Linked DNA regions of Homo sapiens: region 2 is linked to region 1. Evidence: fine-mapped expression QTL. Tissue or cell type: pancreas. Region 1 holds a variant in brackets; the other region holds the start of a gene. All regions are shown on one strand. Distances are from middle to middle.

What was found. PIP is the estimated chance that this variant, and not a neighbour inherited with it, causes the effect.
Region 2: it holds the start of PROX1, and the variant in region 1 is fine-mapped to the expression of PROX1 in pancreas (GTEx, PIP 0.95).

Annotation. Positions count from the first base shown.
Region 1 is chr1:213,657,164-213,665,270 of GRCh38, forward strand. It overlaps a transcript of RPS6KC1 not described here. Among named protein-coding and RNA genes, the nearest start is that of LINC00538, 260 kb to the right of the region's middle. The variant A/T (reference allele first, on the strand shown) is at 4,137.
Region 2 is chr1:213,984,813-213,992,919 of GRCh38, forward strand. PROX1 (prospero homeobox 1) reads left to right here and starts at 3,161. Exons shown (of 5, transcript NM_001270616.2): 1 at 3,161-3,671. PROX1-AS1 (PROX1 antisense RNA 1) reads right to left here and starts at 1,341. Exons shown (of 6, transcript NR_037850.2): 1 at 1,257-1,341. RefSeq lists enhancers at 1-13, 3,538-4,041, 4,042-4,545.

The DNA of each region.
Region 1 (8,107 bases):
AAAGTAATCAAAGGTAAGAAAGAGACATATGTGAGGCATTAAGCATCGAGTACAGAGGCAGCCAGGGAAGATTACTGAACAAAGTCCAGGGAGTGTAAAAAAAGATAAGGAAGGCAAAGGTAGTGAATGAAAAAGAGATTGCACTGAAGGTTAAGATAAATAATGGGGAAAATTTCAAGTGTGTAAGGAACATAGGGGTCATTGAAGGCGATAGTTGGATGATGAAGAATTGGAGGGTAATTTAAAAAGAGGTAGATGTAGCTAAAAAAAATAATGTAATTATTTAATTATTTAAAAAAATATTTTTTTGCCTTGGAATTCTCAGAAGATGGGGGACAAATGTTAGAAGCAGACATGCATTTCCTAAAAGAAACCAAAGAAACTAAAGAAATAACGAATAACACGATTACATCACCACAAGAGATTCAGAAATTAAGACTTGGGAAATAAAGCATTAGAGAATTCAATTCCAGGCAGAACGTATACAAACACATGTGAATAATGAATAACAGGAACTTAAGAAATAAGAATTTGAAAAACCAAACTTTTGGGGGAAAAACAGTTTCATGATAAGTGGTTGGTGCTATTTTTTGCTGCTCTTACAACACTAGAGTCATCTTCTTAATTTCTCTCCCTCTTTTGCTTCTCAGTTTCCTTTCACAGATATTTATTGAAAGCCTGCTAATTCTAGGCATTATGCTATATTTTAGGAGGTACATGGATGAATAACATATTTTCTATGGCCCTGCCTTGGCAAGTTTGCATTTTGGTAGAGTGGACATACTGTATCATGAATGGTTGCATGACTCAGCCACATACTGAGGTACTGTGAGGGCTGAGGGGTGCAGGAAATAGAGGCTCCGGAGGTCATTTTGGATTGGGACAATCAAATTCCACCTGTAGGGAGGAAATGAATGACATAATGCTTGTGCGCACTGTAAAGAACAATCCTTCCAGAGTGCTTGGTTTTCTTGTGTTTTGTGTAATGTTTAAAGAGTCAGATATGAGTGGTGTGGGTTACATAGAGGGAGATTGTCTAGGAACCTGTATCATCACATTATGTGGGATAACTTCTGCAAATGCTTGGGGGACCCACTTGTAGATGAGCCTGGGGAACTAGTTGTGTTACTGATCCTGAGATCCGGAGAGGGGGTGACATTTGGCCCACAGGGAAAGAGGTGAAGCGGCTAAGTCAAGCACTTTTGCCCTCCTCCAAAGATTAAGGGAAGCCCTGCAGGGGTTGAAGAGCGAGCACTGAGGGGGCAGAAGGAGGATCAAAGGTGGCCAGTAAGGACAATAAAACTCCAAGTGCTTGCTGAAGAGAGGCAGGTAATTTGATTATCCAACTCAGTGTAGTGACAAATAAGGTAATGAGGCTAGGGACAAGAAATCTAGAGGCAAGACAGATCTTCCTTGGTCATGGGCAATAGATTTGAGAGGATAAATCCAAGTGCACAGGCGGATAAAATGTTAATGTCTTTGGCACCAGGTTCTGGAGCAATAAAATAAATCAAACGTTATTCTGGATTGCATAAATAGAGGGACTGTGAACAAGTCCAAGGTAATTAGCTCAGAGTTATAAAAGGAAATGGTGAGTAGTGTTTGACCAAGGAAACTGGGGGAAATGCCTGCTGAGGCTTTCTCATCCCCTACTTTGCTCTCTCCATTGCTTTTGTTCACTGAATTTAACCTTGACTGGGGTTCTCTGCATCTCCAGCCCTCCGCACCTGAAGACAAACATGTATTACATGTGTTAGTAAGACTAGATCACTCTGCTGATATTCTTTTTTCTTTTCTTTTCTTTTTTTTCTTTTTTTTTGAGATGGAGTCTCCCTCTGTCACCCAGGCTGGAGCTCAGTGACAGGATCTCAGCTCACCGCAACCTCCGCCTCCTGGGTTCAAGCGATTCTCCTGTCACAGCCTCTCAAGTAGCTGGGATTACAGGTGCCTGCCATGACACCTGGCTAGTTTTTGTACTTTTAGCAGAGACAGAGTTTCTCCATGTTGGCCAGGCTGGTCTCGAACTCCTGACCTCAAGGGATCCACCCGACTTGGCCTCCCAAAGTGCTGGGATTACAGGTGTGAGCCACCACACCTGGCCTCAGCTGATATTCTTATAGGGAGGAAGGGCTGGAGTGAGAAGCTTGGATCACTGAAACCCTGTTCCATCCTTTCTTATTCTGATACGCTGTCCTAGGAGCCAGGTACTTCATGCCATCCAAGAATCCTTCCTTTAGAACATTTTCCAATGCTATAAAATTTAGATTCAAGAAACCAATGATTGATTTCTTCTTTTCAGACTGTCCTCTATTAGTACCAGTTACCAAAGAACATTTTCTTAGAAAGAAAATGGTCATCATCACGTACAACTAAGTTATTATTTATTAGTTACCAAAAGGAAAGTTGCTACAACATTTAAATTCAAATCAAAACTAATGACTTCCTTCATTAAAGAATTTCTCTTGTATTCAGGGTTTTTTTTTTTTTAACTGCTTACTGGCATAAATGTTCAAGTTTCGATTTCTTACAATGAAACTCTCTTAACATTTATTCCTCAAACAATAATTATGTGTAAATAGACCAGAGGTGCATATGTGCCTGTAAGTGCATACTGTTCCCAACAGCAGTCAAAAATAAATATCTTTGGATCAATCAGGTTTTAAAAAAAGAAAATGATAGGGAAAAGGGAAGTCGTTTATCTAACCTTAGCCAAGCTATCATCTACATTCCTTGTTTACACCTGATAATACATCCATAATTAAGCATTGAACTTATTCCTTTAAGGTCAGGTTGCAAAGGAGTCAGGGCATCAGGAAAAATTTCACATGGGAAATTCACTTTATACCTAGAGCCGGGTGTGTGTCTTGGCTGAGAGAACAAGCTGTCTCAGGTGTGGTGGCCCCTAGGTATTCTGTTGGAGATCCGAGGTTACTGGTTTAATATTAGCTTTGGGCATATTAGCTTGGCTACAGGAGCCCCTAAAGCTACCCTCTCTCTAGGAGGCAAGTTTATTTTGTAATAAATGTGTGAGGGACATGTTTAGATAATTCTTTTAGTTGGAGTGACAGGGAGGAGGAACGGGAAGGGACTGAAATTTTAATGTAGGCCAGTATCTCTAGGGAATGTAAAAAATGTCCAAGTTTCATGTCCAGAAGCTGTAGGGGATTTTAATGCCAGTGAGCTCATTTTAGACTCTACCCTCCTCATTGGAAGGCCTCTGGGCACATGTCTGGAATGTAGAAGGAAAGGCAGTGATATGCTTCACCCATGGGCGGAGCCCTAAGATCTCCATTTAGAAAAACAAGCCCCAATTAGAAAAACCAAAATCAGTCGTTGCTCATGCGCCTAATTTATTTATTTTGTACCTACTGTGTGCCAAACTAACTGCAAACATTGTGGAAGATTCTAGGTAGCTCATTTTAAAGAGCCTAGCAACACAGATGCATATATAAAAGTAATTCAAATACACCCAAAGCTATAATATTAGTGGGAGAATGGAATGACAGACTCATGCCTACAAATTATGGTTCATTTATCCCTTTCTTTACTCTTCATTCTATTGCACACCAATCTTACAACAAAACTGTGCCCAAAAATGGCAGAGTAGTTTTGCAGAAAAAGCACCATTCTCCCCCATGTATGCAGTAGGGCGATGAAATAATGCAACTGGTTTTATCTGAGCAATGGAACAAATCCTTCCCATTGATTATGATTGTGTCATGCACAAATTCGCCAGTCGTTGAGTCCTGCAGCTAGATTTCAGAGATCATTTTGCCTGTAGAGACAAGCCCAGGTAGTGAGGCTGTGTGCTATATTTTGAATCTTGAGAGCAGAAGTTTCCACAGCCTTCCCGAGTTGTCTATTTCAGCCTAGAACAATTGTCATCTCAAGAAAATTATCTGTGTATGGTTGAAGTCCCTCAGGCTACTGGTTAATTTTATCGCAGCCTTCAGACCCCAGAGCTTAAGCTGCCCCCTTTTTTTCTACCCTAGCAAATGGGGAATCCTTTGCCAGACATGCAGCCTTTTTTGAAATTATAAATAAGTTGATAACTATAGGACTGACCCAATTACTGCTACGTGAACTGGGTGAGTCCAAGCCATGTCCTATTGCAGAAACCAGGGGCTGGTGTCAGG[A/T]TCTCAGGTAGAGAGAAGGTAAAAACAACACACTTAGCTGTGTGCTGGGGCGATCTTGCCTGGAAGTCAGTGGGGTGGAACGGGCTGGGCGAGCCTCCTTGTCAGGCCTCCAGCAGCCCTTTTCAGAGTGTGAGCAGACCTTACAAAGAGGCACTGACCTCGCCTTTCAGTTGACGAGCATCTTGCCATGATAACTCACCCCAAGGGGATTTCTTTACAGTGATGTATGGTAAAGGTCAGTCTGAATCAGGAGGAAGTCAGAGGCGGGGGAGGAGTTTAAGAAATGCGATTGTATGACTTTGGAGAGCACACGATAACTCAAGTACATGAACTGAGTTCTGTTTGGTGTCGAAAGGACCTCCTTGAATGAAACAATTAGGGATTTATAAAGAAGACACATCAGCCATCTTACACAAATAGTGTTTATAAGGATGTAGGACTTAGATGAAATTATTCTACTCTCTTAAATGTGGTAGATACCCCTTAAAACATTTAAACTTGCAATTTATGCCAGTTTATGAGGCATGAGTTTGCTTAAATAAAAGTAAATTTTCTAGATGGTTAGAAGGATCACAACTTGTAAAATAGTGGAGATTGAATGAATGAGATATCACTATTTTCATGTTAAGATTCTGACTAGCTAGATTCAGAAAACCCCTAAAAGATAGATTCTACTGAATTCCTATTAATGTGGCTGGAACTGGACTGAAATTTCTAAGAAAACATTTACCAAATCTCTTACTGGTATAAATAAGGTATGTTGGAGGGAGAACCCAATGTTTCTAGGTCTTTCCCGGAACTTCTTTTTATGACCCCCACTCCCCTCGAGACACACTTTAAAGGAATAAATAGTTTCATAGATGTGTGAGGAGGGTAAGGGATAAATAATAAAAGATAGCTCTCAGGTGCTTAGCCTGTGTGCCTAGAAAAAAAAAAAATTAGCAATATCGGAAATACCAGAGTAAACTTTTCTTTTCTTTTTTTTTGAGACAGAATCTTGCCATGTCACCCAGGCTGGAGTGCAGTGGCATGATCTCCTGCAACCTCTGCCTCCCAGGTTCAAGCAATCCTCCAATCTCAGCCTCCAGGGTAGCTAGGATTACAGGCATGTGCCATCACACCTGGCTAATTTTTTTTTTTTTTTTTTTTGTATTTTTAGTAGAGATGGGGTTTCACCATGTGGGCCATTCTGGGTCTTGAACTCCTGGCCTCAAGTGATCCACTCGTCTCAGCCTCCCAAAGTGTTGGGGTTACAGGCGTGAGCCACTGCACCCGGCCCAGAGTTAACTTTTCCAAAGCATGACTTTAATCATAGCTCCCCTGCGCATAGATGTTCTGTGGCTCAAGATTCCCCACCAAATAGAATGAAACCGTCAGCCTGGGTCTCTTCATTTCCCATCTCATCAGCCTCCTGCTCCCTTTACGTAACCTCAACTCCAACCAAACTGGTCTATTTCCCAATGCCCAAGCTCACTGTGGTCTTTTCCATCACAGCCCTTTTACTAATGATCTGCCTCTATTTTTGCCTGTCAAATCTTTGCTTTCAATCCAATTCAATTTGATTCCTTCGTTTGGTCACTTATTCAATCCTGTTCATTCAGTAACCCTTCCATAAGTAGCCACCAATTGGTGAGCTACAGCATCCGAGAAGTGTTCCCTGAATTTCCCAGCTAGAAGTAGCCTGTCCACCCTCGCTAATATGTTAGTGTTTTATACCACTCTGAGATTTATTATAGGCTGCAAGGCAGGTCCTAGCTCTGCCAAGTGCACTGTCTAAACCTCTGTTGCCCCATTTGTAAACTATTGATTCCTTTCTCATGGGATTATTGGGTTATTGTGAGGATTAAATGTATGCAAAGTGCTTAGCATGGCATCAGTGCCCTTTGGGTTACCTGTTATTGCTCTTACTATTACTATTTATTGTGTTTTTATACCTCATTGAAATCTCACTGAGACAAGAGCTGTGACTTGCAAACCTCTGTATCCCCTTTAGCACCTGTCTCTCAGAGAGTGTTTACTTCAATCATTTAAGCAAGTTTGTTTGGTTGCAAGATGCAGAGAACTTCTTCCATTACCTCAAGAAAGAAGTGTTGATTATAAGACACCCTTGGACTGGAATTGAGAACTCATCAGGTTCCTGGGCTACCTCTTCCTCTTGTAGCATTTCAGTTTCTCTCTCTACATCTATTCTGTTCTCTTTTCCCCACGAATCACTTCTGCTGGTGGCTTAGAGTCAAGACACCCTAAATGATTTGCTAGGGCCACTGCAAAATGAATATGAAGCATCCCTTGTTCAAAAAGCAGAAAAAGGCACCATTAAAGTTATAAAGTTTTCTTTCTCTATTCCTCTCTGTCTCTTTCTGTCTCCACCTATTTGCTATTCAATATTATCCTTCCTCGAGCATGGAAATACTCACAGGGCAGGTGCAGACCCTCACAGGTGCCTAGGTGCCTGGCCCTGAGACTTGGCACTCACAGCTGGGTTCTCCTTTCTTGCCAGCCACCAGACAGAAGCCATTCCCCACTAAGGGGTGAGAAAGTCAAGCCAGGCATCCCTCCTTCCCATCAGCCCACAGCTGCAGTCCAAGGCAGACAGGCAATCCCCAGGACCCAATGGAATAGCAACTTCCATGCATGGTGCACTAGGTACATAGATCAGGGGAGGGCCAAAGACTTGTTCCACTGAATCTCCTACCAAATGAGCTGTGATGTGGCAGCCTAGGGCAGGGAGAGCCGCCACCTCACCCATGTGCAGATGCCGCAGGTCACAGCAGCCTGACCTTCTCTGGCCTGCACCCAGCTCCCTGCAGCACACAGGGCAGCTCCCCATGGCACACTGATTGCTGGGTGATGTGGGGAGAGGCAGGGGAGGAGAAGGTAGAAAGAAATGAGCGGGGGGGCGGGGTGGGGAGGGGAGCGCTCTGAGAACACAAGGCAAGAGGGGGCAGCGGGAAGCAGGACCGTGGCTGCTGAGGCTCCGGCCTCAGGAGCATGTTCCATTGTCACATGGAATTCACTAACAAAACCCAAGTTTAAAAATAAAAGAAAGCATTAAATCCAAGCATGGGGTCCTTGTAAACACAGGCCCTTATTTGACCACTGGTCACATGTCCATGAAGCTGGACTTTTTAAAATGGCAGCATACACATGAAAGAGCGTTAATGTCTCAGTCTAGCTCTCTCTAGTATGCCCCTTCTGCTGCAGCTGCTACTGCTAACAGGTTTATTCTATCAGTTTCCAAACAACATATAACTAAAGAAGAAATCTGATTGGCCCAACTCTTGTTCATCAGTTTTTTGTTCATCAGTTTTTTGTTTTGTTTTGTTTTTTAATAAACCATATAGGCCATAGGTTGCTGTCCAGCCAATGGGCTGGCTACTATGGAAACAATGCCCCTGCCTGGTCCATGTTGCATGGCCTCCTTGGTCCACGACTTTGTGGGGCTGAGGAAAGGATAGCAATAATTAAGATCTTTAGTATGGTGTTGAATAAATATATTTGAAGGAGTGATTTTGATTGTTTTTAATGGTAAAAAATGAATGAGACCTCTACGTAGCAATGTTTTGTTGCTTAATTCATAGTTATGCTTTATATATGAAAGAGCATATATATATGAAAAGGATGAAATGTTTTTGTTAAAATGAATACTTTGGTAAACATTGTATTCAGTCATTTATACTGGCTACCGTGGATTTTGTCTGAATTAATGAGGTTTTGGATCATGTAAAATCATGGGCTTTATAGAACATACTTTAGAGATTATCTTATTTAATTCTTATCATTTTACAGATACACAATACATTCATTAGGACATGACAGAATAGGGCAATTAAAGCATAATGCCAAAGCCAGGAAGAATAAAGGAACATCTTAATAAATAAAACTGTGGAAACAAGCAAAAACAACAACAACAACAACAACAACACATTTTTCGATGTCAAAATAAAAAAAATTAAAAATTTAACAAAAGT
Region 2 (8,107 bases), 330 kb after region 1:
TTTTGCCTCTCAACTGAATCTGGTTGTAATTCTCAGAATTGGTTTGTTTAGGATCTGATAACAGTTGTTTGTAAGGTTTTAAATTACTTATACACACTGTCTTCCCTCCTGCCCCCACCTAACAGCTTTAAGAAAGAACAGGAGGCGTGAGCATACACCGAGCAAATGTCAAGGCGAAGTGTATTTAACCCAGAACCAGATGCATGGGTGATAACTGCGAGTTTGTCTAAGAACACACAGATCACCCTTCAGATAAATAAGTAAATGCAACCTGCACGGATAGAGTGTGTTACAAGACCGGTCAGAACTTGCGTTAACTTCTAAGTTACTGGGGTTGTGTTGGAAGTGGGGCGGAGGGAGGAGTTGTCTTAACCCTAGGCTTGGCGGCTGGTTTCAGAGATGGAGCCAATATCTAGGCGACTCCTTGTCTCCAGGCTTCTCCCCTATCAGAAAACAAAGCGGGAGTCGCCCGAGATAGGGGGCTCGGGCCTCAAGTCTTGTCCAGGGCAGCCCGAGACCCAGGAGAATGCCGCAGCTCTAGCAAGAGAGGTTGCCAGGAGCCTGGCCTGTACGCCTCCCCGACAGTAGAGGACAGGACACGGGACAGGGCTGCGCCGAGGCAGCTCACGGAGCTGGGCTGCGAACCGATCTCGCTCGCCTAGCGTGGCGCGCGCTCCTATTTCAAGTCGCCGCTCCTGCGCCCTAATGCGGGCTGCGAACCGCCGCGGCAGAGCGTCGCGAGCCGGGAGCCTCTGCCGCCGAGGCTGGGGGTGGGAGAGCTTCCTTGTTCGGCAAGCGGGTTACCCCGACTTCGACTCAGGCCTGCTTTTGCCCACGGCGTGACACAGGACTTACTGGGGTTCTCAGGGAACTTTTCCCGCCGCCAGTTCCCGGGCGTGGTGTGTGCAAAACGTGCATTCAAGCGCTATGTGCAATTGACACAAACTTGTGGGCTAAAGTGCAAGCCATTTTTTTCGCGTTTGAATCTTTTTCTCTGTCCCTGACTCCTTTCTTCCCCCTACTCCCCCCTCCTCCTTCTCTGCTCTCCGCCCTTTTAAATGTCAAACTGAGCAGATGGTTTTAAGGTGTGGAAAGGTATATAGCCCTTACTCCTACCAGTTTATTTGTGGGCTGGCGCTAACTTATATGTACAAACCAAGATTCTTAAAGAAAACTAGTAGGACGAAAAATAAGAAAGAAAGTAGCTTTGATCCATTCTCAGATCCCAAGTTTCCCCGCTCAATACACCCGCTTACCTCGAAGGGACCCAACCAATAGAAGCATTATTCCGTCCTGTATCTAATGGGCATGTTGATTATTTCTGCTCCCAGCCTCAACTGTCACATCCCGGTTAGAACACCTGATACAACAGTCAATAGTTGGAGGTGTGAGTGGTGCGTGTGCGCTCCTCTGTGTTGCTTCCGTGATAGACGCGTGGGGGGAGTGTGTGGGGGCGGCAAAAGGGGAAAGAAGAAGGCTGGGGATGCTCCCGCAATCTCTTTTCTTATCGCCGACACCTAACCTGACCGACCTAATTTTTTTTCTCCTTTTCACTGTTTGAAATTCGTGCCAAAAGTTTCCTGCCGGGATAGACTCGGACATACTAACATCGCTATTCTTATTCAAAGGGAGGGCTTAATATCCTCTTTACGGTTTGGTGAATTTGAGGCTGAAATTGTAAATTCCCTAGGAAGGAGTGTGTGTGTGTGTGTGTCGCAGAAGACATTGGTAGTGTTTGGCCAGTGTACTTGTAACACACCTCATAAATACCCTGTTGTCACGACACAGCATGATTCAACCTTTGATCTGATTAAATTTGAGGGACACACGAAGACTACTTGTCCTCCTCCTACTTACAAAAATGAGTGTCTAATAGACTATGTATGAATGTTTCTGCTTCGCAGCTCTTGCAAGTCCCAGCTTTTATAGGATCTTTAGGTCATAAACGCGGCTGCTTTATTAAAAGCCGTTTACTGTGCCCGGTGAAAGGGACGTTCTAGCTGCGGCTGAGGCTCGCTTGCATTTGTAACTTGCAAAGCCCAAGGAGATCTTTAAGAGCCACATTATCTAAAGAAATTTTGCTGGTTATTTTTCAAGCAAGAAATGTCAAACCAAAGTAAATTTTCTAGGGCTTTATTTTAGAGCCTGCGATTTATGCGTTTGAAATTTCTTGCCTAATAAACTTTAAAGTTTGTTGCCCAGGCGTCAAAACTGTGTAAATCCTGTATTGAACAGCTATCTTTGGTCTTTCTGGGGCGAGTGAATTAGTGAAGGGTAATCGCCAGATGTTTGCAACATATATATTTTTAAAGGCTGCTTTACCTACAATCCAACTAATGTCAGAGGTAACCAAGGGTAAATATTCCTCTTCCTGATAATTTGGACTGGAGATAAACTGGGACTCAGCCAATGTTGATCTTCGTCTAATAACAGATGCAGCGGACCCGATGTGAAACCTCTGGCACCTATTATTTTAATACCAAACCTACCTGTATTTTATTGTCCACCTCCCCTTTAAAAGGAACCAAGGGTGACACGTATCCTTGACACTACCTATGATCGTTTAAAAAGTGGAATGATTTGCAGATCCCCCCCTCCCTCCTCCTATGCCACCCCCACCCCTAAAACCCCCACTTTTTCTCCCGTATACTTTTCCGTGCCTTCCTCCACCCAAGTCGGAGGAGCGCTCACTCGCTCGGCCACTCGGCGAACTCGATCAGCTGTATCTGGGAAATGAAAAAAGAAAAAGAAAAAAAAAAAAAAAGACCTGCGTCCTGGAAGAGCTAGTGTGAGCCGGGCGCCGCTCGCGCCGTCTCCCGCTTTGCATAGTGCCCGCAGATGGCTCGCTCCGGCCCAGGCGCGGCGATCCAGTCGTCCCGAAGCTGTGGCAGGGTGGGGGTGGGGGTGGGGGCCGGGGATGGAGGCCGGGGAGGGGGAGCGCAGGGCCCCTCTCCCCTCCTCTCTTCCCAGCCCCTCACCCCCACCCCTTTTATATTTTTTTTTCCTCCCAAGTTCTCTTGCCTTGCTATCCCCCCTTGAATCCGAAGGCGCCTCGCGATTGGGTGCTGGGGCCGGGTACGTCAGATAGACTGTGACGTGCAGTCTTCCTGTTTCCTTCAGCTGTGTCTTAAAGTAAATCTTGTTGTGGAGCGGAGCCCTCAGCTGAGGGAGCGCTCTGAAATAATACACCATTGCAGCCGGGGAAAGCAGAGCGGCGCAAAAGAGCTCTCGCCGGGTCCGCCTGCTCCCTCTCCGCTTCGCTCCTCTTCTCTTCTTTACCCTTCTCCTCTCTCCTCCTCTGCTGCTCTCTCCTCTCCTCCCGCTCTTCTCTCTCCTCCTCTCCTGCTCTCTCCTCTTCCCTTAGCTCCTCTTCTTTTCTTCTCCTCTTCTTCCCTCTCCTCGCCTCTCCCCTGCTCCTCTTCTCTCGTCTCCCCTCCCCTCCCGCCTCTCTCTCCCCTCTCCCTCTCCCACTCGCCCCGCTCGCTCGCTCGCTGTCGCACAGACTCACCGTCCCTTGTCCAATTATCATATTCATCACCCGCAAGATATCACCGTGTGTGCACTCGCGTGTTTTCCTCTCTCTGCCGGGGGAAAAAAAAGAGAGAGAGAGAGATAGAGAGAGAGAGAGAGAGAGAGAGAGAGAGGCTCGGTCCCACTGCTCCCTGCACCGCGTAAGTATCTTCTTCTTCCCCTCGTGAGTCCCTCCCCTTTTCCAGAATCACTTGCACTGTCTTGTTCTTGAATGAGAAAGGAAGAAAAGAGCCTCCCATTACTCAGACCCGTGTAAACATTATTCCCCCCAGGAGAAAATGGTGTTATTCAAATGAATCATAATAAAATAGCCTCTAAACAGTTTCTAAGCGGGAGCCTCCGTGGAACTCAGCGCTCCGCTCCTCCCAGTTCCTAAGAGTAAGTGATCCTCTTGGCTTTTATTTCTTTCTCTTTCCTGCTGGTGGCTGGGGGTGGCGGTGGCGATGGGGGGGAGGCTGATGTTGCTGGACTTGTCGCTGATCTTGTCACCTTTTGTGTACTGTTTCTGGGGTGTGAGGAGGCGTTTGCTCCCTTTCCTTCTTTCTCCTGCTCTCTCTTCTCAGGAGAGAGGACCGCGAGAGGGACCGGGTCGCTTTTTTGTTCGTGGAGATCCCCGCTTTCCGCCAAACCCCATCCTTCCGATCTCCCCAGGCTAAAACTCCGGGGCCGGTCCCCTTGTCCTTTCTCTTTGTCTTGTTTATTATAGCTGCCTTTCTTCCCGGCTCTTCCAATTTGCTTGTCATTTGCATACCTTTCACTTCTCCTTTTTTAACCCCAGCAGAGGACCGGGAACTGGGAGGAGGAGAGAGGGAGGTGGGGGGGCGCTCTGTTACTTTCGTCTCAAAACGCTGTCGAAGCCGAATTGTGGAAATCCGGCTTGGAGGGGAGCGGTGATGGGTCCCGGGAAACGCGCGCGGCGCCCCTCTTCCGAGCTCCTGGACCCAGGGCTGGGTCAAGTTGAGTAGGGTAAGGCGGCACCGGGAGGCTCGGGGGGTCGCGTGGCGGTGGGATTGGGACACCAGCACGAGGAGGACCGGAGGATCGCGGGCCGGGTAAGAGTAGGGGGTTCTTGGGCAGCAGAAATGGGAGGCGATGAATCTCCCAGCCATCGCTGGCAGACTATGGTGTTGGGCAGCTTCGGTCTGGTCTCGTCTGGGTGGTACCTACCGTTTTGCCCCAGTTAGGAGGACTGGGGAGGGAGGACAGGAGAGGTGAGAGTAATTGTTACTGGGAAGACTAGTGAGGAGGGCGGGAAGAGGGAGGGAAGAGCTGCTATCTTGCCTGAGCAGATCAGGAGGGGGACGCAGTGGGCGGGGGGAGACATCACCCAAAGTCCAGTTTAGCAAGTTGTTGATTCTTCTGGTGTGCCAGCCCGTTACTCCCCCTGCTGAAGCTGAAGGTTGGTGGAGTGATGGAGCGTGGGGATGGTAAAGGAGGAGTAAGTAGCTTTCCACAGACTCCCAGGTCTCTGGCCCCTTCCCAGCTTCTTGGGAAATTGAGAGCCCTCCAGGCAGACAGAGAACAGAACTAGAAGGAGGGGTGGTGCTTAGTCTTAAATAGCTCAAGGAGGCAGGTTGGAGTGTGAAACTGCTGTTCTTGGCAACCCAGAAGGCTACTCTGCCTGGGGGAAGGCTGGAAACTCACCTGCTTGTTTTTATTTTTCCGAGAAGATCTGTGCTGTCTCCTTGAGCTTATAAAAACAGAGGAAGCACAGGGTGGCCTCCTCGCAAAGTCAAGGCTAGAAGACTCCCTTCTCCTGTTCTCTTTTCCACTCATGCCCTCCCTTATTTAAAAAAAAAAAAAAAAAGAAAGAAAAGAAAAAAAAAAGAACTCATTTCCTTTCCTAACCTAGGTAGGCAGAAATCTATTAGCAGAGTGCGCATGGGCAGGGCCTGACAGGTGTGTTGTGTCAAGAAAGACAGGTGCAAATTTCCTCTGTGTCTGTGTGTGTCTGTACAGCTCTAGACCACAATGCTTGCTCGAGGGTTGGAGAGGTTTATGAATTTATGGTTGTCCTGGTTAATAGGATTGTCTGGGCTAATGGGAATTGGGCTGTTGTTCTTTTGAGCCCTGCCATGTGAGTTCTTGGGGTGGGGGGTGGGGGCAAGTTGGTATGTGTTTGTTTATTTTTCTTAAGGATATTGGCAGTCTACTGCTGAGGCTGTGTCCCAGGCTTCTGTCTGCCAGTCAGCCCAAAGCACCCCCACTTTAGGCAGCAGGTGGAGGGAGACTGACTTTTCCTTTGCTTCCTACCAGTTTATGCCTATCTCCCAGGTCTGTGCTTGGCAGAGAGAGAGAGAGAGAGAGAGAACTGTCGTGTGTGTGTGTGTGTGTGTGTGTGTGTGTGTGTGTGTGTGTTTGTGTGTGTGTGGTGTATGCTTTGGATAGCAATGAGTGGTGTGTAACTGCCAAGAATTCCAAAGTCAGTTTGAAAGTGTTACTGTTGTTAAAGCTTATCTTTTTAAGCATGCTTTCTCCTTGCCCAGAAAGAATAGGTATGTACATAAACTCTTTCAAGTCATATGTTAAATAATCTCATAAAGTAGAATGAGCCTGTCATTGTCCCAGACATGTGCCAAATGTCCTAGATATGAATTTGATGGAGAAAGAAAATCTCAAGTACATGAGAAGGTAACTGTGCTTTTCTATTCTGATGCAAGATGTGAGAAGTCAGTTCTACAGGGAATTTCTTGCAAGAACTTCTGAGTATTTCCAAAATGAAATTTTTTGTGTGTGTTGAGGGAGGAAAACGAGAGTATTCACATTAACTTGTCCATGGGTTAAAACATGGACATGTATATGTAATAGTAAAATAGGTGAAGCTAAGGACTGTGGCTTGATGTGTGAGGAAAGTTGTTGGGAATTCAATGTAAGCACTATATCTGGCTTCTTAAAACTTGACCTTTTAAAATTATCTTTAAACAGACTACTTCTGTAGACTGAGTTGCACAGGAATAGGTTGGTTGGCAAATGGTTTTTGCTCATTGGCTTTGTGTTTGGGTAGTTATTGTTTCCATGAAAATGAGATCGTATGTGTCATTTATTCTGTAGACTTCAACATTAACGTCCCCCCACCTCCCAAACACACACACACACACCCAATACTTTCCTTGGATGCTTTTGAAGTTCTTTGGTAATTAAAATGTCATCTATGCCTATGTTCATTTGCTTTATTTTTAATAGGGGTTATCTGTGCTTGGCACTTATTGATATTTTATGTGTCCATTATGCAGAATTCTATTTAGTTTAATCACCACCTTGTGGGAAAAAAAAGTCATGCATACATAACATGCATCTTTGTTCTCACTTTATTCATTTCCTAGCATCATTCCTCTATAAGCAGCACATGCTATCTTAAAACCTAAGCTGGCTTATTCTGTAAGTTGCCAGACTTCCTCTTTATTTGTTTAAAACTCAAACAGGCCTCTTTTCATGAATGTCTTATATCATTTTAGGGATTGTCTTGAATTTGCAGTGTTAATATAAGAAGTTTTAGGTTTCAGATTAACAAAAGAAATTATAAAATGTGACTGATGTTATAATATGAAAATAGATTGTGCATGATGTATCATTATAGGATTTTAATTAAGTACCTGTGTAACTTGGAAAGGAACCATATACATAAGGAATTTCTCAGACTTATTGCCTGTGCATTCTCAAAGGACATTTAGAGAGTTCAATTTTCTGCAAAAAGAAAAAAGTGTATTTTCTTAAGATTATTTCACACTCTGTCTTATTTACCTATCTGATAAGTTGTTACTTTTTAAACAAGTAGAAATTAATATTTTAGGCATGTCTCAGAAAATGTTCTGTGTTCATTTTGCAGGTGAAAAGTGTGTGGAATTTTTGATGGGATGGGAGAATCTTAAATGAAATCTTAAATGATTTGAGAAGTATATTATGACAGGAAATTTAAAAACCTGATAACGCAATCTTAGTTAATTTAGGTATTAACTTATGTCAAGTGAGTTCTTCAAAATAAATATCAAAGGTTTTCTTAACCTGATAGGGAGCAGAAATATCTCCAATATCTCTGAAGAAAAAGTTGCTAATTAGCAGAAACAAATTCTTGAATGTAGTGAAGGGGACAATTTAATGATTCAGGGGCTACTTAAATCAGACCATCTGATTTTTCCCCTTTGAATCACTAATTTCCAGATTGATTTGAAATATTCTTTGTTAATGATATCCTATTTGAAATTTCATAACCAGGTTGACCCAAGTAGATTAGAGGCCCATACAAAGATGATTTTCTAAAAGAAGTCAAGTGTAGGCTTGCACAATTTCTTCAAATAATTTTATCAACAAAGACAGATCATCTAAATAATCCAAGCAGGAAACCATGCCAACCTTACACTCTCCCTGCCTCATAAAAGATTTGTCTGAACTATCTGGATAATTACCGTAATGAAACACTTCTTTGTCCAGAATCTGGACTCCAGATAGATGCAGTAAAAGTTGAATCCTCCTCCCCGAAATAACTTCTTTATTAAAGTAGAGCACTTAACCACTTTATACTTCACGCTGCAGTGTTCCTTTGAAATTCTTTACTGAAAATTCTTTCCTCCTAACCTTA